2 separate regions of the Homo sapiens genome follow, and region 1 is linked to region 2. Evidence: fine-mapped QTL for protein levels in blood plasma. A gene starts in region 2. The other region holds a variant in brackets. All regions are shown on one strand. Distances are between the middles of the regions. Region 1 has its middle 120 kb from the start of BCHE. Region 2 holds the start of BCHE (butyrylcholinesterase).

The links. PIP is the chance, under the fine-mapping model, that this variant and not a neighbour inherited with it causes the effect. Protein levels are from antibody-based Olink assays in UK Biobank. Linkage for the fine-mapping came from a reference panel and not from the study's own genotypes, which makes the PIPs less certain.
Region 1: its variant is fine-mapped to the plasma level of the BCHE protein (UK Biobank, PIP above 0.99).

The regions. Positions count from the first base shown.
Region 1 is chr3:165,709,242-165,726,254 of GRCh38, forward strand. No RefSeq gene overlaps it. Among named protein-coding and RNA genes, the nearest start is that of BCHE, 120 kb to the right of the region's middle. RefSeq lists enhancers at 4,096-4,595, 11,487-11,987, 11,988-12,488. The variant C/G (reference allele first, on the strand shown) is at 9,618.
Region 2 is chr3:165,833,548-165,850,560 of GRCh38, forward strand. It overlaps BCHE (butyrylcholinesterase), which reads right to left and starts at 3,876. Exons shown (of 4, transcript NM_000055.4): 1 at 3,767-3,876. RefSeq lists an enhancer at 3,694-3,988.

The DNA of each region.
Region 1 (17,013 bases), 120 kb before region 2:
TTCTAAATAATATGATTTATATTTTGTTAAAGACACACAAAATTTTACAAAATGTTTTCTGTGATAGAAAATAATTATAATTAACCCAAATAATATGAATTAACCCACTTGAGTTAATTCTTATCCATAGAACTAAGAATGGTAGGGTGCTTGGAAAAAAATGAGTTATGCCTATATGAGCTGTTTAAGGTATATGTAAAACAGGAAGTTTGACAAATGCATATATAACATGATTTATTTTTATTTAGGGGATAACATAAACTAATGCATACCATGGTAAAAGAAGCATAGGGAAAAAACTGCTAAAATAGTCATCAACTCTGTTTGTAGCAGTGGATACAATTTAAAATATTCTGTAATATTTACTCTTTGTACATTAGAAAAATACATTACTTTCTTAATCAGAAAAATCATTAAACAATATTTAAAGAGAAAACATATATTTGACTAATGAGAAATTACATAAAATGATATTAAACTTATTTTTGAGGGGTAAACTTTGATTAGTCTTATGATTCAAAGTCAAAAAACTCCATGAAAATTGACCAAATAAAAACTTCTTTGGGTAATGGTCCCAGCTACTTGGGAAGCTGAGGTGGAAGTATCACTTGAGCCCAGGAGTCCAGAGTTGCAGTGAGCTATGATTTTGTCACTGCACTCTGGCCTGAGCAAGAGTGCAATATGCTATCTCAAAGAACAAAAATAAAACCAAGCAAAAATTATCTGTCCCAAGATTTCCCTTTGTATTCTACATATTAGTTATCTGTTACTGTATAAGAAATTACCCCCAAATCTGGCATCTTGAATAACAGTTATTAGCTCATAGTTTCTGTGGGTCAGGAATATAGGAGTCACCTAGCTGGATGGTTGGGGTCAGGAATATAGGAGTCACCTAGCTGGGTGGTTGGGGTCAGGAATATAGGAGTCACCTAGCTGGGTGGTTGGGGACAACATCTCTCATGAATTTATAGACAAACCATGAACTGGGACTGCAGTCTTATCTGAAAATCCAAATGGGAGTAGATGTGCTTCCAAGCTCACTCACGTGATCATTGGCAGGATTACGTTTCTCAGTGGCTGTTGGCAGAAGACTTAAGTTTCTTGTCACATGAGCCTCTCTGCAGGCTTCCATAGCGTACATTTGTAATGGCAGCTGGCTTTCACTAGAGCAAGTCATCCTAGAGAGAGGATATACATAGACAGAAGCTGGAGTATTTTTATAACTTAATCTTAGAAGTGATATACCATTGTTTTTTATTGCATTCTATTGGTAACAATTTACTATAAATTGTATTCAAATATTGTTACAGAATGTATTAAACTAGTATTGTCAGGGATGGCATATACAAGTGTGAATAACAGAAAACAAAGATCATCCAATGCCATTCTAGAGACAGGCTAGCATATTGCTCTTATCCAGCTTTCTTTTATACCCATAATAATTATCATTTTCTCATAAGTCAAATATACATTGGTTTGTTTACTGCCTTCCTTTTACTACAATATGGGTAAACATCAGGGTAGAAACCTTGTCTGTTTTGTTTGTCACTAATGTTTGAAGCAACACATGGCTTACGGTAAATGCTCAAGAAATATCTATTGAATGACTGGAAGCCTGAAGGATAGGTATATCTTTATAGTACATATCTGGGGAGTCGGTAGGTAGCAGAAATTTAAAATTTTTATTTAGTTGAGTTCACATTTTGATAATTTTACCCAACTATTTCATCCAAAAGCTTAATTTTTTTCCAAAAAAATTATATCTGTGGCATGAGTAAGTCATTTCAGAAGGCTTTGTTCTTTTGAAGGGAAGGCAAAAAAAGAGATGGAGATATCTATGTAATTCCTCAATCTGGGTCTGCAAATAAAAAAAAAATAAGACATACCATATGTCATATTGGAAAGACATCAATGCATACACACACATACACACTTATAATTTTGTTATATATAAACGTATTTCTTAAAAATCTATGGTATATTTGTTAGCTCCAGTTCAGAAGCTATTTTTTGAGAAGGCAGAAGAAAATCATCTTCATGTTTATTGGACCATGCATTTTCAGCCAAAGAGCAATTATACTTCTTAATATCACTAAGCACATTATAATGCTGAAAAGAAATATTGGTGGAAATTGTAATTTAAATTGCAGCAAAAGCTATGAAAAGTCAGCATTATTAAAAACTGCTGAAAATTCAAAATCTAAATAGGTGACTAAACAACTAGCTGAAGAAAAAAATAGAATCATGGGCTAGATCAAGAAGACACTGAATGTTAATAATTTTATTTTTCAAAGAATAGTCTCTGAAGTTATTCCAAGCATTTCTGAATAATTAAATATAAATTGGCATCTATTGAGAAGAATCTTGTATCCAGAACTGATAAAGAGTGGATATTCTCCTGATGGATAGACTGGCCTGTATCTATTATTTTAGTTCAATGTCTATGTTGTTTTGCTTTTTAAAATGTTTTAAATGTCATATCTGATATTATCTATTAGTTTATGTTTAATTGGGGAGAAGTTAATTTGAGCATGTTTTGCTTTTCTCTCATGCATTTGAACTTTTTCTTGCATATTTGGTCCACTTTTATTGTCAAGGACTCAAGCACTATCACTATTTATTTTTCTTAAATTTTAGTTCTTCAGTTTCTTAGTTAAGGCCCTTCTTACTTCCAAATAACACATGGCCTCATCTGAGATGACCTGTTAAGAGTCAACTCTCAGTAAATATTTACTACAAGCTTGAATAACCCAACCTCCCTGCCCCCACTGCCTCATTTTAATTTATTCCTACCTCCTGTGTCTCTGGACAGTGGTAGGATGACTTTCCTCATCCTGATTCTACTTTTACTCAACAATGTGTTATAAATGAAGGCATAGCACTCAGTCTTCCTTGTATTCAACCTTTTTTCTTAATCAAATTTACTGATTAAAATCAAATTATTTCCCTTAGTAAAACACTTTTGAATGGTTCCCATTTGTAATTTGAAAGATATACAGAGGTTATACCTTTGAAGTCAAAGATATTATGAAAATTTCCTGCCCACCTTTTTCATGTACCTATGACACAGGATCCTTAGGATGTTGCCTTGCCAGCCAAAACCTCTGTGGTGTTGGTGCCTTCTGCCTGAGTACTGCTTGGACCACTGGGCTGGATCCTACCACTCAGCCCAGCAGGCTGCACTCAGTTCACACTATCGGCCTGGATTTCATGCCTGCCAAGGACAAGCCTGGCACAGAGCAAGCACGGGGGTCCCGCCACTGTGTACAGTCAGGAGTGCCAGCTGCAGCAGGGTGGGCAGCTCCCAGAGCCGGAACAGGTGCTGGTTCCATCAGACGCTACAGCTGGACCAGGCATACCATAAGCAGCTTCTACTGTGGGCACCAGAGAATGCGGCGGTGCCTCAAAACTTAGCGATATCAGGAACTGCAGAGCCCCAAGGATGGTGTTGCAGCCCTGGCTCAAGGAACCCTAAGTCTGGACTCCCCAGAGGGCTGCAACTAGCTTCTTCCTTCTTGTACCTGCAATGTGGTGAGCAGGAGGTGTGTTTCAGCCCTGTTTGTGTTACAGCTCTTTCTCTTTCAGCCCTGCTCTTTGGCAGGTCCCAAGTTCTTTTCCTGCATCCAGGAAGAATGAGGTACATGGACAACTGGAGGGTGAGCAAAGCAAAGAGGAGCTTCATTGAGCAACAGAATAGCACTCAGGAGATGTGAAGTGGGTAGCTCCTTTCCACAAGCAGGTCATCCCGACGAGTGTTCAACTATCAGTGGAGAGGAGAACCACACTGGGCAGCTCCTTCCTAAAGCTGGTAGTCTTGACATCTCTGTGAGTCTGGTTGAATCCAGGGTTTTTATGGGCTTCAGAAGGAAGGAAGTGCATGCTGATTGGTCCATCGACAGCCATGGGTGGGCCCATATAAGTCACCATAAATTATCACTCCAGGCTGCTGACTCCACAGGGAACTGACAGCCCAGGCCCTATTCTTTACCTGGCTTGAAGGTTAGGCTTAACAGGAGATCCACTCTTTTTCACAAAGGAACCTGTCTGCCTCCAGCTGCCATCAATCATGTTGTCCATGCTGTTGAGGAGGTGCCTACAGGCCTGTGCTGAGTCAGCCTCAGCTCCTACTCAGCCTCTCTCCTGTGCTCCACACCGAAAGTCCGGATGGGGCTGAGGCAGCAGGGGGCTGGTGTGCCAGCACTGCCTCAAGTGCATGCACACCTGTCCGGGTTGTGACATCATCCAGGAGGGGCCTCAACTTTGGTCTGAAATTGGATCGGGCACCGAAAGTGAGGAGAGGCCAGGCAGTGGGAGTAGGAACTTCTGAGCCTGCGGGGGCAGCTGGATTCCCAGGCCTCTGAGAGTGCAGGGATGCATGGATCCACAGCCACAGCTGGGTGGCTGCAGCCACACCTGGGTGGGGGTCTGGGGTCTCCAGCCCTGCCAGCTCAGAAGGGGACAGGGCCCCCTCCTGTTCCCAGCTCTTGCCGGCTCCATGGAGTGTGCAACCCCAGCAATTGCTTCCCCAATGCAGATGGTGTCTTCGCAGCAGCCACTGCAGGTGGGCTGCGCTGCCATCAATCCTCCCTCTGAAGAGGTACAGGAAACTGCCATTAGGATAGGGATGATGACCACGCTTAACGGCTTCATGCTGCTAGGAGGCACTGTTTTGGGGAAAACGCAGTCAGATCTTTCTCAGAGGCCTATCCAAGGGTCCTTGGTAAAAGGGAGCCATCATCTGAGGCTCCAGTTGCATGACCACTTGGTGTCTGATGGCCTCTAGGCAAGAAGAAACAAATTTTACAAGGAGGTTAATTATGCGAAGGAAAAAATCTAGTGCCAAAGATAACAGAAATAAGAAGTAAAATAGACTAATCATTCAGAAAACAATATTGTGGCTAGAGCTGTTTCACCCTGGTAAAAGAAATTAAATCTTGTATGGGGGCAGTTAAAGTTTAAAAGAGAAATAACTGTTTAGGGGGGTAGATAATCCCTTGAGTTTACTTTCCCGAAAAAGAAACCTTTGGGTTATCGGCACCCCATTTACCCCCCATCTCTTGGCAGGATTTACAGGATAATTGCCCAGAATTAGAATGTTCATCCAGATTTTTACTTTACCTATCCCTTTTTTTTGGTCTGAGCTGCAGTCAGAGATAGTTGGCTAGTTCACAGGAATAAGCAGGGTTAATCTAAAATGCAGAGAAAAACTTCAAAACAACCAATGAGAACCTATCCAAGTCCTATAACTGATTATAAACTATCCTTTGAAGAGAATAAATACAAGACAACAATTGCCTGTGGATGACAAAATGTCTTAGGTTAGTTCACAGTCAAAAACACAATTGACAAGGAAATTTGGTTATTTCTGTGGCTTACGGTAACTTAACATAATAATGCTATTTATGATTGCTAGCATATACTCAGACATTTGAATTTTAGAAATCCCATACAATTTTGGAACATACATTATCGTTTACTAAAATATAACTTAAACAAGATTAAACCTTATTTTTATTTGGAAAATCCCATGTAACTAAACATGTCAAATAATCCTATTTACCTCTTGTTTGAATGCTCCAGGGGCCCTCTGTAGCATCCCAAAATTAGGGGTCAGAAAAGATAATTATGAAGCTGAAATTTGATTTGGGGAAGCCTATCAAATACATTAAAGGTTTAAAACACTTGATATTATAAAAAGAATTCCAGATTACCATAAGTAATTTATTTAGCCAAAATGATGATTCAACATTTTTTTTTTTTTTTTTTTTTTTTGAGACGGAGTCTTGCTCTGTGGCCCAGGCTGGAATGCAGTTGCGCGATCCGTCTCACTGCAAGCTCCGCCTCCCAGGTTCACGCCATTCTCGTGCTTCAGCTTCCCAAGTAGCTGGGACTACAGGCACCTGCCACTACGCCCGGTTAATTTTTTGTATTTTTTAGTAGAGACAGGGTTTCACCGTGTTAGCCAGGATGGTCTTGATCTTCTGACCTTGTGATCCGCCCACCTAGGCCTCCCAAAGCTGGGATTACAGGCGTGAGCCACCGTGCCCAGCCGCTTCAACATTTTTTTGGAAAAGCAAAAACCTTTACTCATTACTAGGGCAGACTCAGCTTTCCAAACGATCTGTCTCTTGTCTTTTCCTTCTTTTTTCAGTAGTTTATTCACAAAACAAACTAAAATTTTTCAATATCCTTAACATTACATGAAAATCTTGTTCAAGAGAGATAGACAAATTTCACCCTTTATTTGTCTTTTAATGTCAATCCCAATTTTTTAATGAAAACTTATAGAAAAATCTATCCAATTTTAATCAGTTTGACCATGAGGTGAGATTCTTACAAACCTTTTATAACTCTTAACTAATTTTTGTTAAAGAGTATATCAGTGCCTTAAGAAACACTTGTGCTTTTATTCCAATGCTCAATTTATGGAAAAATCGAATAATACCCTTTTGAATTTAGTCAGTATGTTCACACACAGATTTTATTTTACAATATTAAGTTTTACAAACCTTCCCAACTCATTTAAACCTTTAGCTTTATCTTAATTAAAAATAATTATTTAACCCTCTACAGTAAGAAAAAATTTACATGTCTTCCTATAATCTTTTATTAAAAACACATTTTACTTACCTTAAACACCTTGCATGTAAATCTATTTTCAGTAGTCTCAATACATGTTAAATGGTAACTCTTAGCAATTTTTTAAATTTTGGTGTAAAACATGATAAGTTATTTTAATTATGTACTAGGTGCAGATAAGGCCTAACTCTTTCCAACATAGTCGGGGTGTGGTTAACTTCATATGTCCCCAGGCCTTACCAAGCTGAAAAGAAGGCAAGTCAAACAATTTTCAAAAGCCGAAGAAGCATTTCATGACCTTAAAGCCTTTAGCAACCCTAGTATCTGACCTGCATAATGTAGACCATATGTCTACTTTTTTTTTTTTTTTTTTTTTGAGGCAGAGTCTCACTCTGTTGCCCAGGCTGGAGTGCAGTGGCATGATCTTGGCTCACTGCAAGCTCCACCTCCCAGGTTCACACCATTCTCCTGCTTCAGCCTCCTAAGTAGCTGGGACTACAGGCACCCACAACCACGCCCGGCTACTTTTTTTTTTTTTTTTTTTTTTTTTTTTGCATATTAGTAGAGACGGGGTTTCACCGTGTTAGCCAGGATGGTCTCAGTCTCCTGACCTCGTGATCTGCCCGCCTCGGCCTCCCAAAGTGCTGGCATTACAGGAGTGAGCCACTGCAACTAGCCCATATGTCTACACTTTGAAGACATTTTTATTTTACCAATAATCTTTAAAGCTGTTTTTATTTCTCAAAGATTAAAGTCATGTGAACAAAAAGGCATTACAGCTTTATTTTTCTTTAAAAATATTTTATGCAAATGCTTATTTTTTCCTTAAACCAGTCAATTAAAGCTCTTTTTTTTTATATAAGCACCACACATAGAACACATACATAACTACAGAGAAAGAAGATCCAGTAGTTGTTAGATTTTCATTTGCCCATCTAATTTTATTTACTGGCCTCAGGGTGGAGCCCTTTAAGAAACAGGGCTATGAAACCATGCAGTATCTAGGGCCTAATAAGCAGGCATAGTTGGAAGACAAAAACAGATTTTGAGATCTATCTGCCTCTAATTCCTGGGGTTCCATGAGAAAAACAGGTTTTTGTTTGTTTGTTTGTTTTTGTTTTTGTTTTTCTTTTTTTACAAAAATGGGGTCAGTGGCATCTCTTCTGTTCTTCCCAAGGAGTTCCAAACCATCAAAAGTTGTCTTAGGGCCTCTTATGTGTGCATTAGGAGTGGCAAGATGAAATGGAGAAAAATAATTAAGTTGGCTAAAAAGGAAAAAAAAATCCTTTTTCCAGAAAAACTAGATCCATTGAGAGAAAAGACATAAAGGTCTTTTATATATGCCTGATATGCCTGTAGCTTGGATATCCACTTTTAGTTAAGCTGACTTTTAACCATATAAATCCTTTTTATTTATTTATTTGAGATGGAGTCCTTTTCTGTTGCCCAGGCTGTAGTGCAGTGGCATGATCTCAGCTCATTACAACCTCCGCCTTCCAAGTTTAAGCAGTTCTCTGCCTCAGCCTCCTGAGTAGCTAAGATTACAAGCACCCACCACCATGCTCAACTAATTTTTGTATTTTTAGTAAAGATGGGGTTTCACCATCTTGGCCAGGCTGCTCTTGAACTGACGTCGTGATCCACCCACCTTGTCCTCCCAAAGTGCTGGAATTATAGGCGTGAGCCACCGCACCCGGCCAGAAATCCTTTTTTAAAAAGTCCTCTTAAATGTCTTATTAACCAGCCTTAGCCATGCCAAATGGCCAATATGGCTGGCTTTTGAGCCTTAACAAAATTAACCTCACAGGTAAAACTGATAAGCCTTACTGTAAAAGTTGTCCCTCTTCAAGAGATTGCTCAGTTAGATTTGTAATATCTTCTCAGTTTGGGGAATGCATCTGAGGGGAGTGTCCTGTGGTGTAGAGATGCAATTACCCATCCTCAAAGAGAAGACAGAAGAGGAAAAAAGGAAGAAAAAACCTTTTTTTTTTTCTTTTTCCAGAGTCTGAGGGTCAAAGGAGTTCCAGAGATTCGGGATGCACTTGAGAAGAGTGCAGGCTAAAGATGATTGGTTCCCCTTCTGGAAGAGAGGACAGAGGGGGAAAAGGCATTCTTTCCTCTCTCCAGAGTCTGAGGGTCAAGGGGGTCCCAGGGATTCAGGAAGCACTCGAAAAGAGTGCAGGCTGAAATGGTTGATTACCCATCTGGAAAGAGGGGGGAAATGGTTTCCATTTGTTCCTTTCTCTTTCAAGCCAATACACAGGGTACATGAGGGAGAGAAAAAAAAGACATCACCTTCTTTATTTTGACATTATATCCCTAAGTCCCGGCAACCTTTGCACATGCCACTTTCACCCATGTAGCAGGGAGGCCTAGTGGATAAGAATATTTGCACTTACCTTTATGCTGCCCTATTCTCCCATTGTCAGTCACCTTTGAGTTCCCTAGACCTTATCTATGCCATGGATGCAACATGACCTCCATCCAGAAGTGGAAGGCCCTAATGGTAGGAATTAGTCATGCTCACCTGCACTGTGCCTCCTGACTTGCACTTTCATCTGCCTCTGGATACCTCAGGTTTAGCTTTCCCTTTGTACGGACTCATTAAATTAAGTCCCAGGTAGCCCTTACCAAATTGCAGCCAGTAATTGGTGGGGCAGCCGAGGCCACTCTTTCATTTCTTCCCTATCATAAGCAGAATGCTAAAGTAAAACTGTGAAACGAGGTCCCCTTCAAACCAAGGAAAGAAAGGGAGTCCTGGGAATTTAGGACTGGGCCTAATAAGATGTCTCTCAAAAGGAAAAAAAAAAAAATCTCTTGCGTAGAAAAGCTCCCCCAATGCACTATGTTGACTGCTTACATGGTGGAGGAAAAAGAAAAAAAAAATAAAAAAGAAAAAACTGAAGTGCAGGGAAGGGGAAGGTGCCCAGGGGAAAGCCTCTTTCCCTATGGAAATGGCTTCCTTCAACAGGGGAAAGAAAAGTCTCAGTTGTTACATTCTCCTTGCTTCTAACAATAGACAGATACCACATTACATT[C/G]TTCTGATTTACATTCCTGATCACTAAGCCAAGCGCTTATTATTTTTTCTTTTTTCTTTCTGTCTTTTTTGTTTTCTTTTTTTTTTTTTTTTTTTTGAGATGGAGTCTCACTCTATTGCCCAGGCTGGAGTGCAGTTGTGCTATCTTGGCTCACTGCAACCTCCACCTCCCAGGTTCAAGCGATTCTTGTGCATCAGCCTCCCAAATAGCTGGGACTGCAGGTGCCTGCCACCATTCCCTGCTCATTTTTTGTATTTTTAGTAGACATGGGGTTTCACCATGTTGGCCAGACTGGTCTCGAACTCCTAACCTCAGGTGATCTGCCCACCTCGGCCTCCCAAAGTTCTGAGATTACAGGTGTGAGCCACCATGGCGGGCTTCCAAGTGCTTATTCTAGCCAGTAATATTTTCTCTGAGGTACCCTTAACATTGTATATAAAAAAGAGAATAGTAGCCATTATAGTCAGAGAAGAAAGAAAGGAAAGGAAAGGAAAGAAAGAAAGGCAGGCAGGAAGGAAGGAAGGAAGGGAGAGAAAGAAAGAGAGAGAGAAAGAAAGAGAGAATGAGACAAAAAGTGTGATAGGAAAGACTGAGGGCCCTAGTGCTGACACCCTAATGGGCAGTTGGGGATGGGAGTTAGTCCAGGGGCCTTTGGATAACACTAAGGTGTAGCCTCAGTCAGATATCTGCAGTTGCCCCAGGACCTCCTTCCAGTCTCAAGTGACAGCTAAATTTTTGTGAAGGGAAACCGGATTGGCAAAAGGCCAACATTCCCAAGACCCAAGAGTGACAAGTGATTGACAGTGTACCCCCAGCAAGCCTGTCCTCTGTGTCTTAAGTCCAGCAACCACACTTGTTGCTTTTAGTTGGCTGAACAGAGGCCCATGTTTTTCTTTCATTCTGGCTAGTGTGTAGTTTATTGACTCCAAAAAAAAAAAAAAAGGATGGAAAGCAGCAAGTCCTCTTTTACTCACTCTCCTGAAGATCCCAGAAAAGCACCTCCAAAAATGTCAGGGGATCCTTGGGGTGTCACTTTGCCAACAAGAAACCTTGGTAGCCAGTGGTGCCTTCTGCTTGAGTGTTGCTCAGGCCCTCTGGGCTTGTTCCACCCACTTGGCCCAGTAGGCTGCACTCAGTTTACGCTACCGGACCGGATCCCTTGCCTGCCAAGGGTGAGCCAGGAGTGAAGCAGTTAGGGATGTGTGAGCAAGGGTGGGGTCTGGTCACTGCACACAGCCAGGCATGCTGGCTGTAGCAGGGCAGGCAGCTCCAGGCCCCTGCTCCATGCAAGGCTGTGGCTGGACCACGAGTACCACAATTGGCTTCCACTTCTAGCACCGGGAAACACAGTGGTACCCAGAAGCTTGGAAATGCCAGGAACCACAGAGCCTCAAAGAGGGTGTTGCAGCCCTGGCTAGGGAAGACCCTAGGTCTAGGATCCCCAAAAGCTGCAGTTCTTCTCTCCTTCTTGACACCTGTAACATGGTGAGGTGGGGCATGTTTCAGCCCCGTTTGTGTTACAACTCTTTCAGTCCTGCTATTCAGCAAGTCCCAAATTCTTGTCCCGTGTCCAGGAAGAATGAGGTCTGTGAACAACTGGAGGGGAAGCAAGGCAGTAGAGGAGCTTCATTGAGCAACAGAACAGCTCTTAGGATACCTGAAGTAGCTGACTCCTTTCCATAGGCAGGTCGTCCAGATAAGTGTCCAGTTCTCAGCAGAGAGGAGACTTGTAGTGAGTAGCTCCTTTCCTTAGGCAGGTCATCCTAACGAGTGTCCAGTTCTCAGCAGAGAGAAGACCTGCTGCAGTTGATAGCTCCTTCCCACAGCTGGTAGTCCTAACGTCTCTGTGAGTGTAGCTGATTCCAGGGTTTTTATGGGCTTCAGAAGGGAGGAAGTGCATGCTGATTAGTCCATGGGTGGCCATGGGCAAGCCTGGAAAAAGCACCGTAAGTTCTCACTCTGAGCCATGGACTCCACCTGGAACTGACAGCCTGGACCCCAGATTTCAAGCCATCCCTGGCTTGAAGGTCTGGCTTTACCGGGGACCTGCCCCTTTTCTTGTCTGCCTCCTGTCATCATTAATCATGTTGTCCAGGCACCCAGGCTGTTTGTGCTGAGGGGTGCATTCAGGCCTACACTGAGCTTCCCTCAGGGCCCCCTTGGCCTTCCTCCCATGTTCATTGGTGATCAAAGTCCAGAGGGGGCTGAGGTGGGAGGGGGCTGGCATTTCAGCACTGCCCCAAGTGCAAGCACACCTTGCCAGGTTGCAACAGCACCCACGCTTGGCCTCAACTTGGCTCCAAAATCAGAGTAGGCACTGGGGGTGGGGAGAGGCCAGGCGTGGGGAGCAGGCACTTCCAAGCCCGTGAGTGAAGGGGGCTTCACAGTCTTCAAGAGCCCAAGGATGTCCAGGTCCACCAGGGCAACTGGGCAGCTGCAGCTGCACCCGGGAGGGAAGGGCTCCTGCCCCACCAACTAGGAAGGGAGCAGAGATTCCACCTGTTTCTGACTCCTGCCAGATCCATGGAGCATGCTGCCAGCTGTGCCTCCCCTGCTGCAGCCGGCATCTTTGCAGCAGTTGATCCAGGTGGGCTGCTGCTGCCAGTCAATTACACTTTTGGATAAATCCTCAATGTAGGCTCCTCCCAGTAAATTATATTCACCATGTAAGACTTCCGTGATTTTACTTACCATTAACTTCACTTTCATGCATTAATTGATTCATTTGGTCAACAAAATATTATTGACATCTAACAAATGAAGCTGTGCTGTATGCTGCATATACAGATATTGCTGATAAAGAGTTAAGTGAAGGAAGTACTTACAGGTTACTAAGGACTGAAGGTGGTGTTTTTCAAAAAAAATCTCAAACCAAAAGCAAAATTATTAAAGAAGTAATATGCTATAATCCCAGAAGATGGATGTAGAAAGAAGAAATCTGAGTGGAATAAAGGACCTTCTACCACCAATATCAGTCAATCCAATAATCAGCAAATATTCTTTTAAGAACTTTCTGTTTTCAAGACTCAATATATAAAACTATCTCTGTTTTTGTGGAACTTACAGCTCTTTAACGGTTGAGGCAGACATGAATAAAATAATCACAAACATAACATTACAGCAGAGTAAGATCTGTGAAAATAAGTCTCACAGTGCCATGAGATAAGGGAAAGACATACTAGGATCAGGGAAGATTTCCTGAAGAAATTAAACTTTGATACAAAGAAATAGAAAATAAACAGATAAATGAAGAGAAAATGAATCTAAGACAGAGGAAGGAACATTTAAAAGGTCCAGTGGTAAAGGCTGAAGTTAACTTGTGTGACTGAAAGAAGACCAGTGTGGTAGAACACATAAACTAATAGTAATATAGAATAATGCCGGATTTTATTAAATTCTTTTATTAAAAACTTAAGCATTTTAAGTAAGGATCTTGGGCTAATTAGAATCTTTTTTAACCAATTGCCATGGTAGAAATGGACAAGAGTTGATAAAGAGGGACAAGTTAGTAGATGTGCCCTGCCGTTGCCCCCATAGATGATTGACATTGCTTGCTCTAGGGAGGAGAATGTGGAATTAAAGAGGGTGGATCCTAGAGATCTGTAAAAGGTAGTATCACAAGAATTTGCTGATGGATATGGAAGATGAGAGAATATGATGTGTTAAAAATGATATATAGTATTCTATTTTGAGAAAGTGGATATAAGCTAATGTTATTTAGAGCTAAGTACCAATTAAAAAGAATCAGGATTGCTTGAAGCGTGTAGGAGTTTCATTTTGGATATGTATGGTAAAAGTGATATTCCTTGAATTATGAAACATTTCTTACTCCTGGGGTGAAAGTGGTAGTAGTACTCAAGTAAGAGACAACAGGAAATTGGTAGTAGCTTGGAATAGATGATAAATGCCTATTTCTTAACAAGGAGGGGTTTTACCGGAGATAAGTTGAAGGATGGTGGCAAGCATTTCACAAAGTAATATTTGGGAATGTTGGATTTATGTAGCAAGAAGCATAGTGGTATAGAGTTTTCTATTTTCTGGTGCAATAGCATGAATTTGGAAGTGTAAAAGAAATATGAACGGTTGAGACCGCTAAAAAAATCAGGATTTTTTTATCTGAATGTGGAATACTTGGTCTGTGTTTCAACTGTGAAAGATAGTAGGGCAATGTTAAGGTCTAAGATTTGGCTATGAATGTAAATAGGCTGCATCTATTATTTTACACTGGTTCTGTCTTTATCTAGCTTTATGACTTTACACAAGTGACAAATTCTTAGCACTATATTTTCTGCTTGTAAAATGGCGATAACAACAATAGCTGTCTTAACAAACGTGTGAATTTTAAATTAATTGTTATGTAAAGTGGGTAGCAAACTGCCAGGAACAGTGATTTCTCCATAATGCTGTTTTTATTATGTACAATACAATTATTATATATAAAACTTTTTATCCCTAGCACTTAGCAGAATAAACTACTAAAATCATTTATAATAGATATTTATTTTGTAGATCTTTTTGGGGAGATTAGAAAATTTTAATACTGTACTATTACCAGCCATTTCTCAATTGGACTAGAGTTCTAATAATTATAAACTTAAAAATGATCATCTACTTGTCAGAATCATTTATTTAGGATATTTATATATGTACACACTATAGTCTCCTCACACTGCAATTTATTCTCATTTTTATTGTAATTCTTATTAAAAGTTAAAATGAAAAAATAATTCCTTTAGTAGTTTATTTAGGTTATCATTTTAAGACACTGCTTGCAGTCACCTGTGGGATATACACTGACATTTACACTCAGATTAGTATCCCACCTAAAACAATGCATTTATAGTTTCTAATACAGCAAATCTGGTGAAGGCTCACTTGACATTTTTAGTACTAAACACTTCTCTTGTGAGAGCACAAGTAAGCTGACACTGAGTAGCCTCTCAACATACGAACAGGGTGTTCTATAATTCAAATAGAAAGAATACATATCATGGTACATAACTTACCAAATCTAAATTATCTGCCACATATATTGTCTCATTTAATCATCACAAGAAACCTGTATGCTTGGCATTAAGTCAAAGAAACAAATAGATATAAGGCATTTCTCGAGTATCATGTGGCTCCATATTAGTGGGCACGGCATTCGTATCTAGCTGTCTAATCTGGTTTCAACATTTGACGTAATGGTCTCTAGATTTGACTTTATTTTTAAGAATTTGAACTGTCTTTGGTGGAGATGAGGTGTAATGCATTCAAGAGAAAATTTGTTTCAATTTATGAAAAAATCTCCAAGTAGCATTCAAATAACATCATATGTTCTTCAAGAAAATGAATGTTCTGTGTTGGAAACACAAAGAATACATATCCTTAGACTTCAGAGTTAGTGCAGTAGAAATTAGAGAAGTTGAAAATGATATTTTTAGAAGTGCACTTGTGACAGATCAGGATTCCTCAAGACTAGAAAGTGGATGTCATAACACACTTATTGGAAAGACATTAAGTGATGACAAGTATGAGAACAGAAAATTGGTTAAGTTAACATAAATTAAGGAGGAAATTATATTAAAAACCCCAAGTACAGAGGATAAATGCTTACACAGACATGTCCCATGCAAAATGAAAAAAATAATTCCTTTAGTAGTTTACTTTGTTTACCATTTTAAGACACTACTTGCAGTCACCTGTGGGATATACACTGACATTTACACTCAGATTAGTATCCCACCTAAAACTATGCATTTATAGATTCTAATATAGCAAATCTGGTGAAGGCTCAAAATAAGGAAGCATATTTAGATAAGAGTAGTGACCTTTAAATGAAATATATTACTATGACTGTATGTGGTTGTCTCATAACAATGGTTGTTCAGTTACCTAGTAGGTAAGGATTAGTTATATAGTCTATCATTGTTACATCATCAACCACCCAAAACTCATTATCTTAGCAAACAAATTATTTATTCACATGAAATCTGTGGATTCCCAGAGAGTCTACTTATACAGGCTATGCTTGGATAGTGGTTCTGCTTCAAGTTGTGGGTCTGGTTGGGCTTAACTGGAACGGGTCTACTTTAGGTCATTCTGGGGAGGTAGTAGCTATCTAGTCATGATGGTTAATTTTATGTGTCAACCACTTCTGGGCCATGGGATGCACAACTATTTGGTCAAACATTGTGAGTGTGTCTGTGAGGGTATTTTTGGAGAACACTAACATTTAAATGCATAAACCAATTACAGTGGAGTACCCTCCTTAACATGTGTGGGTCTCATCCAATTAGTTGAAGGCCTGATTAGAACATGAAGGCTGATTCTCTCACAAGTAAGAGGGAACTCCTCTTGCCTGCCCGCCTTGAGCTGACAATTGTCTTTTTCTACCATTGAACTAAAATGGAAACATTGATTCTTCTTTGGTCTCGGGCCTGCTGGCTTTCAGACTGGAAAGACATGATCAACTCTCCTGGATCTCCAGCTTGCCAACTGCAGATCTTGGGAATTCTCACCCTCCATAACCATGTAAGCCAATTCCTTATAATAAATCTCTATTTCTCACTTTGTCTTTCTCTTTTTCTGTTTCTCTATTCATCTCTCTCTCTCTCTCCACACATGCACACACACACACACACACACACACAGAGAGAGAGAGAGAGAGAGAGAGAGAGGGACAGGGAGAGAGAGAGAGAGAGAGAGAGCGAGAGACTCTTTAGTTTCTGTTTCTCTGGAGAACCCAGAATCGCTTCTCAAGATGATGGTAGGAAGATAAGAAAGAATAAAAGAAACATATGAGTTTTATTAAGCCATAAGCACACTGTTACTTCCATCTGCATTGAATTCACCAGAACAATCACATGTTCAAGTCCAAAGTCAAGGGACAAGGAAAGACATGATAAGTATTATATGGCCAAGGCAAGGGTGAAGATTTGAGGTAATTTATTTATTATCACGATAGAGCAAACATTTTTCTATGAATATTCTCATGAGCTTTGATTTAATGTTTTTTTTTTAATTAGCTTCTTTGTTAATCAAGGCGATAAACCTGTGGAATATGCTTTCTTTATATAAAATGTAAGGATCAGAAGCACAATTTAGAAAATCACACTGTAAAAGTCATTTATCTTCAAAATTTAGAATTCACCCTTAAAATCGCATTGATAAAAACATTACTGCAAAATTAAGAGACAGTAGATGCATTGGAGAAGTAGAACACCTTAAACTTGGGTTTTAGTTTTAGAAGATATTGTCAACATGCCATTTGACTATAGCTACTGGTAGTATTTTCAGATTCTAGTTAAACCTGGAAAATAAAATTTTTCATTGGCCTTCAATTAAATCTCAAAACATACATGAAAAACACTTAAATATGAAAGATATAGACAATGAATGAGATATAAAAATT
Region 2 (17,013 bases):
TTGATTGAAGCATCATTATGTATTGTATGACTGTATCATAAATCACAGTAAATAAATAAGTAAAATATAACAATGACTTAAAGTTTCCTGTTACCTGACACTAATAACATTTCAGACATAATCAAAGTTTTAGAGGCACTCTACTGCTTCAGTTCTTTTTTCTTTCTGATAACCGCTAATCCTTTTCTCTTTAATAAATGCAGGAGAGCATCTGGAGAAAAACAAAGTGCTAGTATGATTTTTTTTATTTTCTGTTTTGAAAACATCCTCTGGGAAGAAAAAGTGAATAAGGTGCAAAGCTGATTGGGCGGTTCGTTCTAAGCTGCAATTTAATAAATTAATTGCATCATCCCTGGTTGTACCCATTCTCCCTCTTGCCTAGCTCAGTCAATGTTCTTCTAAGTCTAATGCAAAAGCCATCTATTTTTTCCTTGATTTTATTTGAATATTAGTTTGTCTTTAGAAACCAAACACCAAATTGAAATAAATTTTGGTCTCTGATAGTTTTCAAACTTGTTCTACAAACAGTTTATATTATTGCAAAGCAAGTACTATAGTTGCTACAAAACTGTATTTGTGTTTTGTGTAATTATGAAATGTGATGTTTCATTGTTTATGTTAAACAGTTGCTATAACATCTAAATGGTTGTAATATCTTCCCATGTCACTTAACTTGATTTAATACAAAATTTATTATATGTTGATATTTATATTTTATGCTGAGTAGGTCTTGTTATATAATAATATGGTATGAATTAAAATCTTTAATTTTTCGATAATGATATCTGAGTTATCAACTTGCAAATAATGTAATTGGTAACAATCAAAGCAATTCTTGTAAGCATGCATTCATTGCAAAAATGACAATATAATGCTAACTCATATGTATTGTTGCAGAGTGTCATATGACATATTATTTAATGTGTACTTTAATATAAAAATATGCAGATGTTCATATACTGTTAGTGTATTGTAGGCTAATGTTTTTATATTTAATTGCAGTACTTTATTTTTTAAATAAGCATCACTTTGCCCTTTTTATAATCTGGTATTATCTATTCTAACATGCTACTCTGTAGTTTTGCCATTAAAAGACTTTAAAAATTTTGATATGTTTATCATGTAATTGAGCAATCGAAAGAGAAATAAATGAAAATAGAATAAAAATATTGAGTCTATATCTCAAAATTTTTATTAATGATTAGGATATTCAACAAAACATTATCGTTTTTCTTTTTTTTAATTTTATTATTATTATACTTTAAGTTTTAGGGTACATGTGCACAACGTGCAGGTTTGATCGTTTTTCTTTTAATAAATTCTGGTGCAATTGGATACTGTCTCACATGATTCTGAGAGAACATAGTAGCATAAACATTATCATAAAAATGGGGCACATTTTCACAAATACAGCTGTGTATCTGAATTTAGATCAATTTGCTTATCAAAATAGTATTTAATATTGGAAATAAAGACAGGAGTTTTTGTTTGGAATTCAGACCATTCTAGTTTTTGAGGAATTGAGTTTTTGAGGAATTTGAGTTTTTGAGGAACTGAGTTTTTGTTTGGAATTAAGAAAATTTACTGGCAATTTTTGAAAATGCTAAACTGTTATAACAATAACTTTCAAATAAAAAAGGTGACAAATCTTTTTTTGTATTTTTAATTCAATTTTGAAAGTACTATTAATATTCCCTAGCTGATTTTAACAAAAAATACTAAATGTTATACTATAAGATGTGAGTGTGATAAAATAATTTGTATAAAGAGCTATTTTTTGGGATACTTGAATATCAACCAGATTTTCAAAATAAGGGACAAGCCAAGAATTTTTAAAAGATGTTCAAGCAAATATTCAAAATATTTTCCCTGTGTATAATTTCCCTATCTTTTAAAAAGTTACAATTAAATAAATATTTATTTCTACTTGGAAATAAACCCTCTTAAAATGGTAGAGAAAGAGCCATCTAGATAATATTAATATGATCTAGAACAAGCTCTCTTAAATGTATTTGAAGAAATTGGAACAACGACGTCTTTATATCAAACTTAAAAAGCTTGTTTTGTTGCAGACTAAGTGAAGTGGGGAATTGAGGAAGTCTGATTATAAATAGACTACATCACTGTCTTTCAGGGATTCTTCAGCTATGCTTTAGGCATGTATACATATAGAAGACACTACATTAGATATAAGAAACTTAAGATGTTTTATCTGTCCTCAATTAGGAAGAACATTTGCAAACTTCATTGTGTGAATAATTTGAACATTTATTAGAGAGATTTCTTGAGTCTTCTCTGAAAATTAAATCTCCTCTTAGGTTGCTATCTATTCAATTACAATTCTCTTAACATCTGGGACCGTCTAATTTTGGTAAGAATGAGCAGATGCTGGCAAGAAACCATCGAAATGAAGATAATATTCAATGTAAATATATATTATACTTATCAAGAAATGACTCGAAGAAGGAACCAAATTTATAGATAAGATGTGACTTGTTTAGCTATTAGTAGCTTATGTTTTATAAAAATGAAATATGGAATACATCCCAAACATATTTTTACAATTAAAAAACTAGGACAATACAAACAAACAACAACAACAAAAAATTAGGAGAACAAAACAGAACTTTGATAACCCAATTAGAAATTTATTTGGCATCCAAAAGACTACTTTATTTTATATCCAGAGAAAATTCTGAAGATTTTTATTCAAATGTTAAAGTCACACTTTAAAAGCTCACGCTTATCCTTAAACAAAGTAACTACTTATATAAGTAAACTGTCATTGTATTTATTGTAACTATGAGATAGTTTATATTAAGGAAGGCATTACACAGACTAGTGACAGGAGCTCCTAATTGAGTTTATTATCATGAAATATATTCATAAAAATGTAGAAGACATACTCATAAAATAAAAATATATAATAAATAGAAATCATAAACAATGAAATCACATTTCAGTTTACTTTTAGTCATTCATAGATTTTATAATCCTTAATATTTAATTCCCTGGTTAAAGTGGAACTGATGTTATCAAAATAATAGTTTTACAAGATTATAGGATGAGCAGAAAGTACATTTGCTTACTATTTCTATAATAGTAAAATAATAGCAAATGTAAAATATTTTGCTACAATTTAAACAAACATATAAAAAGTGAACACAAAGGGCAAAGGGGACACGCTCATAAATCACTGTAAATCAAATTAGAAAACAGGTTTTGTTTTTATTTACATAAAATAAACAGACCTCTCATTTGCCAGTTGTTACTGTTAAAGTTTTAGGTGACAAAATGTTGATTGAGAAAAGTATTTTGTTCAGGAAAAAGTAAGTTAACTACTAACTTTATCCCATTTAAAAAGAAAAAAAAAGGAAGACTAATCAAAGATTACTTTTACAGAGAGATTCAATAAACAATGCATTTAAGGGTAAGCCAGTATGAAATGTTTTTTCTTAGGAAACTCACTAAGAATATATATCACAGTGATTCCACACGTGCTATGGTCCTTTATACAGAGTTGAATAAATTCATTATTTTCTCAGCAGTTAAATAAACAAAGTCTGCGTTCCCTGAATAATAGGAAGATTTGATGCATGTGCCTGCTGGCTCACTTCCTCTGTCCCATTTGCAAGCTTCAGTAACTGTTCCCCACAGAGCACCAAAGGGACACAACAAACACATGAAGAGATCACTCTCATCCCACAGAATGAGCTTTACAGTAACTTGGATCTCTACACGAAGGTGTAAATTCAGAGCAACTTACCCGATTCTCTGCAACAAAGATGGCAAAGTTTGCAAGGAGTGAAAATCATGTAATACTTCGGGGAAATGCAGGATGCAGCTGCTGCTCCAGCCTGTAAATTGGACTGCACTGACATTCAGTGTTACTGAATGTAACAATCAACTGTTACTGACAAAGCTCGCGAGAGTTGGCAGCAGCAACTTGAAATCTGTTCAGAGGCTAATGGTATAAATGCAATAGTGATTCATTTACAGAAGTATTACAGGATTCATGCTTTACAATTGCAGGTAGTCTTCTAAGAATGAAGAAAAAAAGCATAGAAGATTCTTTAACTAAAATAATCTGAAATGTAACAGAAAATGCATGTTTCTTTTAACTCTAAACTTTAAAAAAATTTTCCTTTTTTTAAGAATATACATATTTCCTATGCTTGTCTTAAGATTTAAAGACGTATACATCATTCTAAAGTAGTGCTATTATTGAAATCCATTATAGCTTCAATCTGTGCTAATTATATAGTTAGAGAAGATAGTAATATAGAAAATAAGAAACACAATGCTCTAGATATAAGCTATGCAAATCAAAAACTTAGTTCTATTAACTGAATGGATGTCTCTGATATGTATCTCCTTTCAACCCCCACACTTCAACACTTATTTAAGTCATACAAATTTCAGCATTGGTAATTTCCTATTCAGAAGACCCTGCAGGCAGTCATACATGATGAGAAGCCACAATTTTCTGGTCAAGACAGGAAAAATAAAATGAATAACCTTCACCAAACTCTATAAAAGAGACACATTTGTCAACTTGCAGTGCACATGCTCTGGAGAATATATTTATGTCTTTGGCGCTTATCTTTCTTGAAATGATGTTCAGGAAAATAATTTTTTAAAAAACCTTTGATAAACTCCTTAATCCCTATCTTCTCAATGCAATATATTCTTAATCTTCTGTAAGTGATAGCTTTCACTTTTGAATCTCTTACTTGTGGGCTTTCTATGGACTAAACAGAAGGCATGTATTAATATTTGCAGGTGAGCACTTTTTTGCCTTTTAATAGAGTGTTAAATTTTCAAACAAGCAAATATAATTAGCATTTGTTGTAATTCTACCTTATGCCAGTCATTATAATTGACAATTTATATTAAATATTTTATATTATTTCAGCAAATATGAGAGTTAATATTATTAACCACCTCATCAGATGAGAAAGCTAAGGTTTCTACAAATCAGAAGCTTACTATATTTCTTACCACTAGTAGCTGTTGGAAAACAGAATTTTAATCTGTATTATTCTGTTATTTTATGTCAACTGCTTCCAAGAGAATAACCATTTTGGTCTTTTAAAATTATCTTTTCTGTGAAAATTGCTACTTAGGCAGTGTTAATTCAATGATAAATATCATGATCACAATAATTTATAATGTATTTAGAATATAGTTTATGTAATAACAAGTTAGTTACACAAAAGGTACAGAATACATAATCTATCTGAAAAGGAGAAAAAGGAGGTGGAGCACAGTGGTTCATGACTGTAATCCCAACATTTTAGGAGGCCTAAGTGGGCGGATTGCTTCAGTCTGGGAGTTCAAGACAAGTCTGGACAACATAGCAAAACTCAATTTCTGCAAGAAAATGGGTCAGACATGGTGGTGCAAGCCTACATTCCCAGTTACTTGGGAGGTAGCTGAGGTAAGAGTATCACCTGAGCCTAGGAGGTCGAGGCTGCAAGCCACGATTGTGCCACTGCACTTCATCGTGGGTGACAGAGTGAGATCCTGTCTCAAAAAAAAATTAATCAATAAATCAATAAAAGCAGGAAAAGGCTTTTTAAATGGAAGTATATTGACAAATTTGCAATGGTTTTTATAGTGATGGCATTTCTGTTTAAAATATAGTAAATCTGATGTTCCACATGAGAGTTCATGGGTTCAATATACATGATTTTTAAAAATCCAAATGTCAAAATTCTTCTCTCCAACCCAAGTCCACTGCATTGTTTCCTGTGCTAGCATAAGGTCAGCCTATCAAACGCGGCAATTATTAAGGAATATTTTGTGACGTTAGTGAATTCAGCAAAGCATTTTACATGCTTCCTGCATCTACTCACTGCTAGGTAAAATATGTCACATATATACACATATTTCATTTTCATCTTTAAACAGGAAGCCAAACAATAAAATAATTGGTTTCAAGCAGATCTTTATCTTTAACGCATGTTTAAACTGGCTAACTAGCAACATCAACTGATTACACAAGTTGGCAATTTTTCTTCTTCTCAATGTCTTTACTTCAAAGAACCACCTTCTGTTACTGTCCCTGTAGTTCTTTTCCTCGCATGATTTCACAGCTATGCCACATTAGTTCATTCATTATTTTAGTGCACCTCTAAAGCATTTATTCTTCCTGTCTTGAGAGTTTCTTCCTTGTGGCTCAACTTACAGCAGCTGCTTTGCTTCTGTGGTGTCATCATTTTCTCACACTCATCCAGCGGAAGGATGTAGGTCACACACAGTGAGCTTGTTTCAGGGTTAGTAGGGAAGCACTATTCCATTACATCACAGCATGGATGGTTAATGATCCTGCTGTTAAATGTTGAGTATGCCTTGTAAGCGACACTGATGAAATACCACAAGACACTTGACACGGCATTAACACTGCGCACATTTTGCAACCATATATGCTGAAGCTTGGGCAGGACAATCATTATGGTTTTGGCTCTATGATCACTTTCAGTTAGCCAGTCACAGTGGTTTTTTGCTTTTAAGGTCCCATTGTAACTCAGTTACCACTGTTTTCTAGATAGCAGCATTCAGTAAGATTTGAGATGGTGTGAAAAACATTAATCCTGTATTATACATTAGTTTTCCTTAGGCATACTGATGCCAAAAAAGTGCTCTAAACTTATATTAATTTTATTCATTTTTTTTACAATAGCACTGCATTCTCTGAAATGAATATGGATAACAAAGAAAAGTATATATAAGTATAGATAGATAGATAGATAGATAGATAGATAGATAGATAGATAGATAGATAGATTTTTTTTTTTTTTTCCTGAGATGGAGTCTCACTCTGTCGCCCAGGCTGGAGTGCAGTGGCAGGATCTCGGCTCACTGCAACCTCTGCCTCCTGGGTTCAAGCAATTTTCCTGCCTCAGCCTCCTGAGTAGCTGGGATTACAGGCACCCACCACCAAATCTGGCTAATTTTTGTATTTTTAGTAGACACAGGATTTCACTATGTTGGCCAGGCTGGTCTCGAATTCCTGACCTCAGGTGCTCCACCAACCTCGGCCTCCCAAAGTGCTGGGATTATAGGTGTGAGCTACTGCATCCAGCCCAGAAAAGTATATTTCTACATTTTACATATCACAGAGAATGAAAAGACCATTTTGTATATTCCAATCAATTTTTTAAAATATGTGTATGTGGTTATAGTTACATAGATAAATATAGTGGTAGTCAAATGGCTTATCATCATTCTTCTTGCTTTTTATCTTATGATATTAATTTCCTATTAAAATATTTTGATTACTGTGTGATATATTATCATATGGGCATATTATGGTTCATTGTATCTCTTGTTACTTATATGATGATAATAATAATTTTAGGTAATAAATATTATTTGAAAGCACTATTCTATCCACTTTGAATACATGAATTCATTTAAAACTCATGACTACCTTTAAAATAAGCACTATTATTAACCTTATTTTACATTTGAGAAAATATAGCCACAAAGAGTTTAAGTAACTTGCTCCAAATCATACAGATACCGAGGTTAGCTTCTGACTTTTTTTATGTATTATTACAATAGGCATTTTGTATATCGATATTTGAGTGCATCTTTTAATTATTTTCTTAATTTATTTTCCCAGAATTGGAATAACCAAATACGACATGGACAAAGTACATATACATATATGTGTGTGTGTATATATACATGTGTGTATGTATATATATTTATATGTATATTCAATCTTCTGAAATCCTACACAGACTGTTGAATAGAGATAACTTTCCAACAATTCTGGCAAAAAAGAGAAATGTTCTTATAATCAGAACTAACCTGAACATGTCTCTGGAGCCCAGGTACTAGACCCTCATAGCTGGATGTGGCAGGTGTTTGAAGGTGGATATCTCCAGAGATATTAGAAGTAGGTCCAGAGCCACAGGTAATAAAATTCTTTAGTGATGTTGTAGCAACTAATATGGAAGGCCTTGCAGGAAGTGACATCTGTAAGGGATAACACATAGATATTTTGGGGTTAAGGGAGAGTGAGTGATGGGAGGTCTGTGGTGCCTTTTACATGAAGATACAGATAGTTTGGTTAAAGGAGTTTTGGAAAGAGACAACAACAATTTGGTGAGACACTAGAATATTAGACTCTAAGAACAGAAAGAAAATCAAGAAAAAGCAAGAGCTTCTAAGGAAATGTGGTGCCAAGTGGATTTTCATGGAATTGGCAAAGCCAGCAGAATCAAAGTAAGAAAACAAATTCTGAACTAAATTGTTCAGGGCTTGAGCAAAAAAGGAGAAACTCATTGTTTTAAAACATAAAAAAAGAGAGAAAAACAGCAAGCTTCTTTGTTTATCACCTAATTTACTGAATTGGCTTAAATTTACTCTTCCCAAACCCTTGACTATCTTTGGAGTCTCACTCTCAGAAAAATTGCAAAGTAACACATTATCAAATTCATCAAAGTGCTATTTAAACATCCAGATTTCTAGGCCACATCCCTGGGCTTTGGTTTCAGTAGACTTGAGGACAGCGTTATACTACTGTCCTCTGTGAAGCTGATAGAGGGAGTTCACAAACTACACACTAAGAGGCAAAGTCCTGGAGCTTGGATACTAAGGACATTTTTGTGCTACCATATATATATATATGCTTTTTCTTTTTTTTAATTGCTTATTCTCATGCACAACTGTACCTTTTGCTTCAAGCTAATTTGGAAATACATCATACATAGTCTTTGGTAGCCTACTTTCATATAACCTATCTTAAGTTTTTCCAAAATAATGCTATCGAATATTTTTTTAACTTCATTTATATGCCTATGTATTAATTATTTGTATAAGTACAATATAATTTATCTAACTTGCTTTTATTGTATATGAAGGCTATTTTAAATTTTTCCTGGAAATAGTAACATAAAAATGGACTTAGTAATTATAAATATTTTTAAATATTTCTTATTTTCTATGGAATAATTGCTTAAATCAGAATTCTTCAAAAGGTTATCTATGCTTTTATGGCTAAGACATATCAACCAACTACCTTCACAAAACATCAGCAATTTATACTCTCACCAGCTGTCTAGGAAAGTGTATGTTGTTCTCATGCTCAAAAACGCAATTTATTATTACATATCTTTTGTCATTTCATTTGATAAAAATGTACTATTTTTAGTTTATTTGCTTATAACTGTTACCACCCATATTTCAGGTGTTTAAAAGTAACTTTTTATTTCTGTACAATTTTAAATTTATGGAAATTTTCAAATTAGTGCAGACAACTTCTATATAATATTTACTCAGATTCACCATGTGTTAATATTTTAAGCCATTTTCAGTTATGTCTTCCTTTATACATGAGATAAAATATGTGCATTTACAAATTATTTTTTCTGAATTATTTCAGTTATTTGTAGTACCAATGTCCTTTATCCCTTAACACTCTGGTAAGATCTACGAACATTCCCTTTTCTCTGGCTGTAAATATAATAAGTGAATTCAATCAACAATCTGGTAATAGAATACAAGACTATTTGTGAGGAAAAGCCCTGTTATTATGGAACAACTCTAATTTAAAGAAGAAAGACAACTAATATATGTAGAAGGAATAACACAGCAGAAAAAAATTTTCATACCTTGATGAATATACTCATTCAGTTAAGAATTAACAATTGGTGTTAAGATCACTAGATGTATGATTGAAGGAAAACTGGATAGGTGATATTCTTGAGAAACCACACATATTTCAATCCAAATTTTATAACTAAAGCAAAGGGTAAATTTTAATGTCACAAATAGCAGAATCAATAAAATGTTAGGTAAACAATATCACCAAGTCTATCTAAAAATTTTAATTTGAGTCTTTTATTATCACATTGAAGATATGAATTCAACTTTATATTTATATGAAATAAAGAAAATAAATGAAAGAAACAAATTGTATCTCAATGGAGCACCCAGCCAATTCCTGAAAGTGGAACATTCTGGCTTGGTCATTTCAACAAAACAATGAAAGTAAAGTTCTATGAAAGCCTGGGCAAAATGCAAGAGACATAATCACATGTAGTATGTGGTTCATGACCAGAAATGGGTTTTTTGGGGGATAAATTTTGGAAATTTAAATAATTTGGTGGTACTAGCTTAGAAAAAATTTACTGAGGTGAAAATTCTTGAAGAAGTGGCCTGCAGAACATTATGAAAAATATAATCCCATTGTGGTATGCGTGTATACAGACAGACAGACAGACAGACACACGCACACACACACACACAGATTTGGAAGAATAGAAATTAAATGACTTTATGCTGAGACGATTTGGCAGAGATATTTATACAAAATTATGGAAACAATTTATTTTTATTTTGCCTTATATTTAAGAAAATCAGGAAGAGAAGGAGCTGCCAAATTTTCATTATTGAAATGATATAAACTTCATGTCAAAGCAAGTTAAGAATAATAAAAAGCCAGCACTTTGGGAGGCCGAGGCGGGCAGATTACGAGGTCAGGAGATCGAGACCATCCTGGCTAACACAGTGAAACCCCGTCTCTACTAAAAATACAAAAAATTAGCCGGGCATGGTGGCGGGTGCCTGTAGTCCCAGCTGCTCTGGAGGCTGAGGCAGGAGAATGACGTGGACCTGGAAGGCGAAGCTTGCAGTGAGCCGAGATCGCACCACTGCACTCCTGCCTGGACGACAGAGCGAGACTCCGTCTCAAAAACAAACAAACAAAAAATAGAATAAAAAGAAAAGAGAAGTTGGAGTTTGAAGAAACTGAGGCAATGAGATTTTAAGGGGAAATGGAGTAAACAAATTGAGAAGAAGACTAAAGATAACAAATTAAAGAAAAAGGAGCAATTTGGGAAACCACTCTAAAGAGTAGAAGTTTTGGGGAGGTAGAAGCATAATAAAGACTTCTAGAATGATATTTGTGGTGAAGTGTAAATCTCTCCTGAGAATCTTCAAACTTGTTAGGAGAAACCAACACTGTTTTTTAAAAGTTCTGGAGCAGATGTGTATGTGAGTTTTTGTGTGTTTCTGTGTATCTGTGTGTGTGTGTGTGTGTGTGTGTACATGTACTACAGAGACAGTGGATACAAAAGTATCCAGAGTTGGGCTTCAAGGGAAAAAATGGTACAGTCTCATTTAATAAAGTGGCTGAATATTAAATATGTTAATTAAGAAAATAAAATTGTTATGCTATTATGTTTCTGAGGTAGAAAATTGTACTACTTTATATGATTTCTTCATTTCTGTAATTTGAAAAGTTTCCTAATTTGCATATAATATGTTCAAGTAAAAATAAACTTCTTATAAAATAAATTTGATTATCATAAGATCACATTTTGGAGCCATGTAGTCATTTCTGAGATGAGAGTTAAAGAAGAGCATCCAGTGGCACCCTCCACAGCGGGGTCTCACCTTCAAAACCAGGGTCATCTGGTGCTGTCTTCTCAGACTTTTTTCTCTACCTCAGTGTTTGTCTTCAGTCTTTTTTCCCTTTATCATCTTTGCAATATTCCCAGATATCTTTCTGTTTTTTTTTTTTTTTGTAACTGTATTTTATTACTTCAGAATAGCTTTGTAAATGCCAAAATTTACATCTTATTTCTTGGGGGGAGTCAAAAGCTACAATGCAGAAATTGTGAAGTGCTGAGATTCACCTTTGTTTTGGAACTGGATCACCAATGTAATGCCAAATAATCTGATATTTAGCTAAACACTGTATTGCTAGTATATGACTGCAATTACTAAATATAATTAGGCAAATAATAATTAATCTTGATATGTCTTAGTACAACCTGTATCTTAACATTGTTTTTCAGTCTGCTCATATTTGGTGATTATATTCACAGCATGATTTTACCATAAAAAAGAGATTTACTCAGGGTGTATTTCTAAATACATAGAAGCTTATTTTGCTGGCCATGAAAAAACAACAGTATAATTTACTGCCTCCAAGTAATTGTTTTATTTCTGACTTCCTCCTTAAACCCAATTAATGGTACTTTAGCCCTTTTCTGTATCATCATTGTTCTGAAGTCAGATTTTTGGCTCCGTTTAAATGATCAACGTGACATAAAACATATAGATTAGTGTTACAAATCCCCAGAAACATAACTGGAAGGGACAACTTATTTGCAGGCCTCACAAAGTATTCTTCTGCAAATAGACAACCATATCTAACTGATTTTTATGGACAAATTGTTAAAACTATGTCTACATTAACTTTGTAAATTTAAATCAGTAGTCACAGAAAAGGCATGAAAAGCTCTGTGATGATTGTGTCAACTTAACTGAGTAAATGAATGCCCTAATAACTGGGAAAACTTTTTTTTTCTTGGTCTGTCCAGAAGAGATCAGCATTTGAATCAGTAGACTGAGTAGCTCTCACCAGTATGGGCAAGTGTCATCTAATCCCTTGAGGCCTCACCTAGAGAACAAGAAGGGAGAGAAAGAATGAATTTGCTCTCTCTTCTTGAGCTGGGACATCCATCTTCTGCCCATCCTCTGCTCACCTTCTGCTCCTAGTTCTTGATTCTTGGACATATGTCATCCCCACTCAATTGTCGAGCCTTCGACCTTGGACTGGAAATTCCAACACTGATCAGTTCTTCTGGATCTCTGGCCTTCAGATTTGGACTGAATTACACCAACAGCTTTCCTGGCTGTCTAGCATGCAGATAGCATATTGTGGGAATTAGCCTCCATAACCGTGAAAACCAGTTTCCATAACAAATCACATCTTCTCCATCTCTATATATCCTATTAGTCCTCTTTCTCTGGAGAACCGTGACTAATACGAGATCTCAAGCGAGAATATGCATTTCTGTCTTGCCTATTTAATTAAGTTTTGGGGAAAAAAATCACATGGAGTAATGCACAGAAATCTTGTTATGAGATTGCCAAAAGTTCCATTTATCACCTACTCCATCTCTTATCCTATAGATATTTTATGATTTTCACAACTTTGTAAAACACAGAAGTATACATATTGAAAACCATTTATAAACTATTTCTGGATTTAAAAAGAAGAATCAAATTGATATTACAAAATAATGTATAACAAAAGCACTACATATAAACCCATTGTAACTTGCAACTGAATAGATATTATTATTAAAAGAAAATTGATAGATGTAAATGCTTGTTGGAATAGAAACAAAATTGTAAACAGTGAAGAATCCCATGCAAGAGCTAAAGAAAAGAATGATAAAGAAAACCAAGAGACAATATAACATTAGAAATTGTAGTAATGAGAACAGAAATTAATAAAATAGAAGATGGGGGGAACGACAATGGGAGCAGCAAAAGCAGAACCGAGTTCTTTGAAATATTCCTATCAAAAATCTGGGAATAATTATAACAAAATATAAGCTCTGTATGATAAATATTTTACGTTTTTATTAAATACATCAACAGATGACCTCTTCTACCCCAAATAGAAAACTATGTCTTGTTCACACATGGGAAATCTCAGTCCTGTAAGATGTTCAGTCTCTATTTGTTACACAATTCCAAATAAATTCCCTTCAAAATTTTTAACGAACTTGAAAACTCACTTGAAAAGTTATGAAAAGTAATGAGCTCAAAATAGCCAATATAGTTTTAGAGAAGAAAAGTAAATAGAAATTAATTTGTCTCATTAGATATATTTAATAATGCACTTTGATGATTAAAATTACATAGCATTTGGATATATTGCATTTGGATAGTGATAACCTTGTAGAAGAGAATAGAGATTCTGTATCCTCAGTTGTATATAAGGATATATTATATGGTATATTAGAGGGATATTAGAACATGACCTATGTAATAAGTGAAATGAAACAAGTGTTCATCATATAGAAAGCATTTTGATTAAATTTCTACTTTAACTATAAACCATACACAAAAATATTTCTGCATGAATTTGAGACCTATGTATGAAAAACAAAATGTTAAAATTAAGAAAACCATGAGACTACCTCAGTGGAATTCAGGTAAAGGCAATTTTTCTAAATAAGACACAAAAGGCCATTATAGAGAAACATTTAATTGGAATAATTAAAATTCTAAAATTACCAAGAAAAGCTTAAAAAGTTAAAAAATACACAAAGACAGAAAGATGCATATAACCAATAAAGAACTATACTCAGAATATAGAAAGAACTAGAAATTAAAAATAAGAAGACAACTCAAAGAAAAAAATGATAAAAAGATCTGAACAAGCAATTCACGAAATGGAAAGCCTAGTGGCCAATCAACATGAAAAAATCTCAATTTTTCTAATCACTGATGATATGAAAATTAAAAAACAATTAGATGCCAATTCACACAAACAGAAGTTGTCCAAATTGTATGTCTGCTATTGCTCAGTATTAGCCCAGAAGGGAACTAGGAATGTGAAAACATGTTACTGAATTTTATGTTGGTATAAATTTTTAAAAATATTATTGAATATATCAACCCTAAAATCAAAATTCTAGGCATATACACTAATGAAACTCATGCACCTATACACAAAAGTCATGCAAAAAGTCTAGATTTTTATAATTTTTTAATAATATAAAGATACTAGGAAGGACCAGATTATGACTAGACAAATTTTTATGGTCCTAGAGTAGAATAGCATGTAATAATCAAGAATAAAGATAGGCCGGGCTTGGTGGCTCACGCCTGTAATCCCAGCACTTTGGGAGACCGAGGCGGGCGGATCATGAGGTCAGGAGATCGAGACCATCCTGGCTAACATGGTGAAACCCTGTCTCTACTAAAAATACAAAAAAATTAGCCGGGCGTGGTGGCGGGCGCCTGTAGTCCCAGCTACTCCGGAGGCTGAGGCAGGAGAATGGCGTGAACCCCGGAGGCGGAGCTTGCAGTGAGCCGAGATCACGCCACTGCACTCCAACCTGGGCGACAGAGCGAGACTCGGTCTCAAAAAAAAAAGAATAAACATCAATACCAAAACGTTGAGAGAAAACATCGACATGTGGAATGGCATGATGTGTTTTTAATACATTTTAAGTACATACTAATTTTTATTTTGTTTACCAAGGTATATGCATTTGCTTGGATGAATATAATATTTGGATAGTTGCTATATATGGAGAGGTAATACATTTGTAATATATCTATACTATTTATTGAACCTGTTGACTCTTGACTCCTCACCGTAGCCCTTAGAAAATTTTGAATTTTAAGTTTATTTGTATGTTCATTATTAGTTTTGTCTTTTTCCCCATAGTTATGGATTTTAAAATGAGAAGAAGGACCATGTCCAGTTCATAATCCACTAGTGCTCAGCCCTAACAGTGCAACTCTGGTGTTCATTAAATAATTATTGAATGAATAAATCCCCATATTGTATACTCCCAACCACATTTGATATTATCTTTTTCTAATAATTGTATACTTATTATTTAAAAATTCTCTTTGAACGTTCATTTATATGATTTATATATTCTGAAAAATTATTCCATTCCATTTCAGTTAAATCTTAAAGTATTTTTCTTCTATTATAGTTTTTTTTTTTAAATAATAGTATGTGATTATTTTCCCTCTCTAGTTTGAAATAGAGAATTTAATAATTATAAATTACTAAAGTTACTAAAAGGTATAAATACCTTTATATGCTTAATTTAATCATTATTCTCCCTTCTTTATATACTTTCATGCTATAAAATATGAATTTGTTGACTCCATTTTGTGTTCTATTACTGTATATTTTCTTTTTTATATATCACACTATATTTGGATCTTCATGTTTTATGTTGAGGTTTTCTTTTATTTTTTTGTAACCAAATAATATGAACTTTTTTCCTTCAGCCTTTAATTTCCAGGGTACGTGCGCAGTATGTCCATGTTTGTTACATAGGTAAACGTGTGCCATAGTGGTTTGCGGCACAGATCAACTCATCACCTAGGTATTAAGCCCAGCACCCATTAACTATTCTTCCAGATGCTCCCCCTTCCCCTGCTCCCGCAAAAGGCCCCAGTGTGTGTTGTTCCCCCACAATGTGTTCATGTTCATGTGTTCTCATTGCTCAGCTCCCACTTATAAGTGAGACCATGCAATTTGATTTTCTGTTCCTGCATTAGTTTGCTAAGAATAATGGTGTCCAGTTCCATTTATGTCCCTACAAATGATGTGATCTCATTCCTTTTTATGGCTGCATAGTGCTCCATGGTATATATATACCACATTTTCTTTATCCAGTCTATTATTGATGGGCATTTGGGTTGATTCTATGTCTTTGCTACTGTGAATAGTGTTGCAATGAACATACACATGCATGTATCTTTATAATAGAATAATTCATATTCTTTTGGGTATAAACACAGTAATGGGATTGGTGGGTCGAATGGTATTTCTGCCTCTAGATCTTTGAGGAATCACCACACTGTCTTCCACAATGGTTGAACTAATTTAAACTTCCACCAACAGTGTAAGTATTCCTTTTTCTCTGCAATTTCGCCAACATCTGTTGTTTCTTGACTTTGGGCCTTTTTATTTTTCCAGATGAAATGTCATTTTTTTAAAAAAAAAAAAAACCTAATAATATATCCATCCATTAGAATCTGGCTTATACAAAAGCAACAGAAAACCAACTCATTAGCTTGAGACAGCATGGGTTTTATTTTTCTTACATAAGGAATCTGGAGGTACATGGCCATGAAAGGAAACTAAAAAGTGAAGGTGTTTTTAGTCTGCTGTATTGCAACCCTGAACAGAATTTGTATTTTGTTAGTAAGGAAGAGGCCAAATTTGCATAGTATAGAAAACTATTAATATTTACCATTGTGTAGTACTTTTAAAAGTTCCATCAGTTAATTTCATTAATTAAGGAAAAGTGTCTTCTTATAAGTAAAATGGATATCTCTCAATTTATTTATCTATGTACCTAAAAGTTAATGTAAAAGAATTATGATATATTTTAAAATATAGTTTATATCCTATGTATTTTTGTATGTCTTTAGTTAACTTTACACTAATTGGCAATAATTTGTGAATATATAACCAGAAAAATATTTTTATTATTT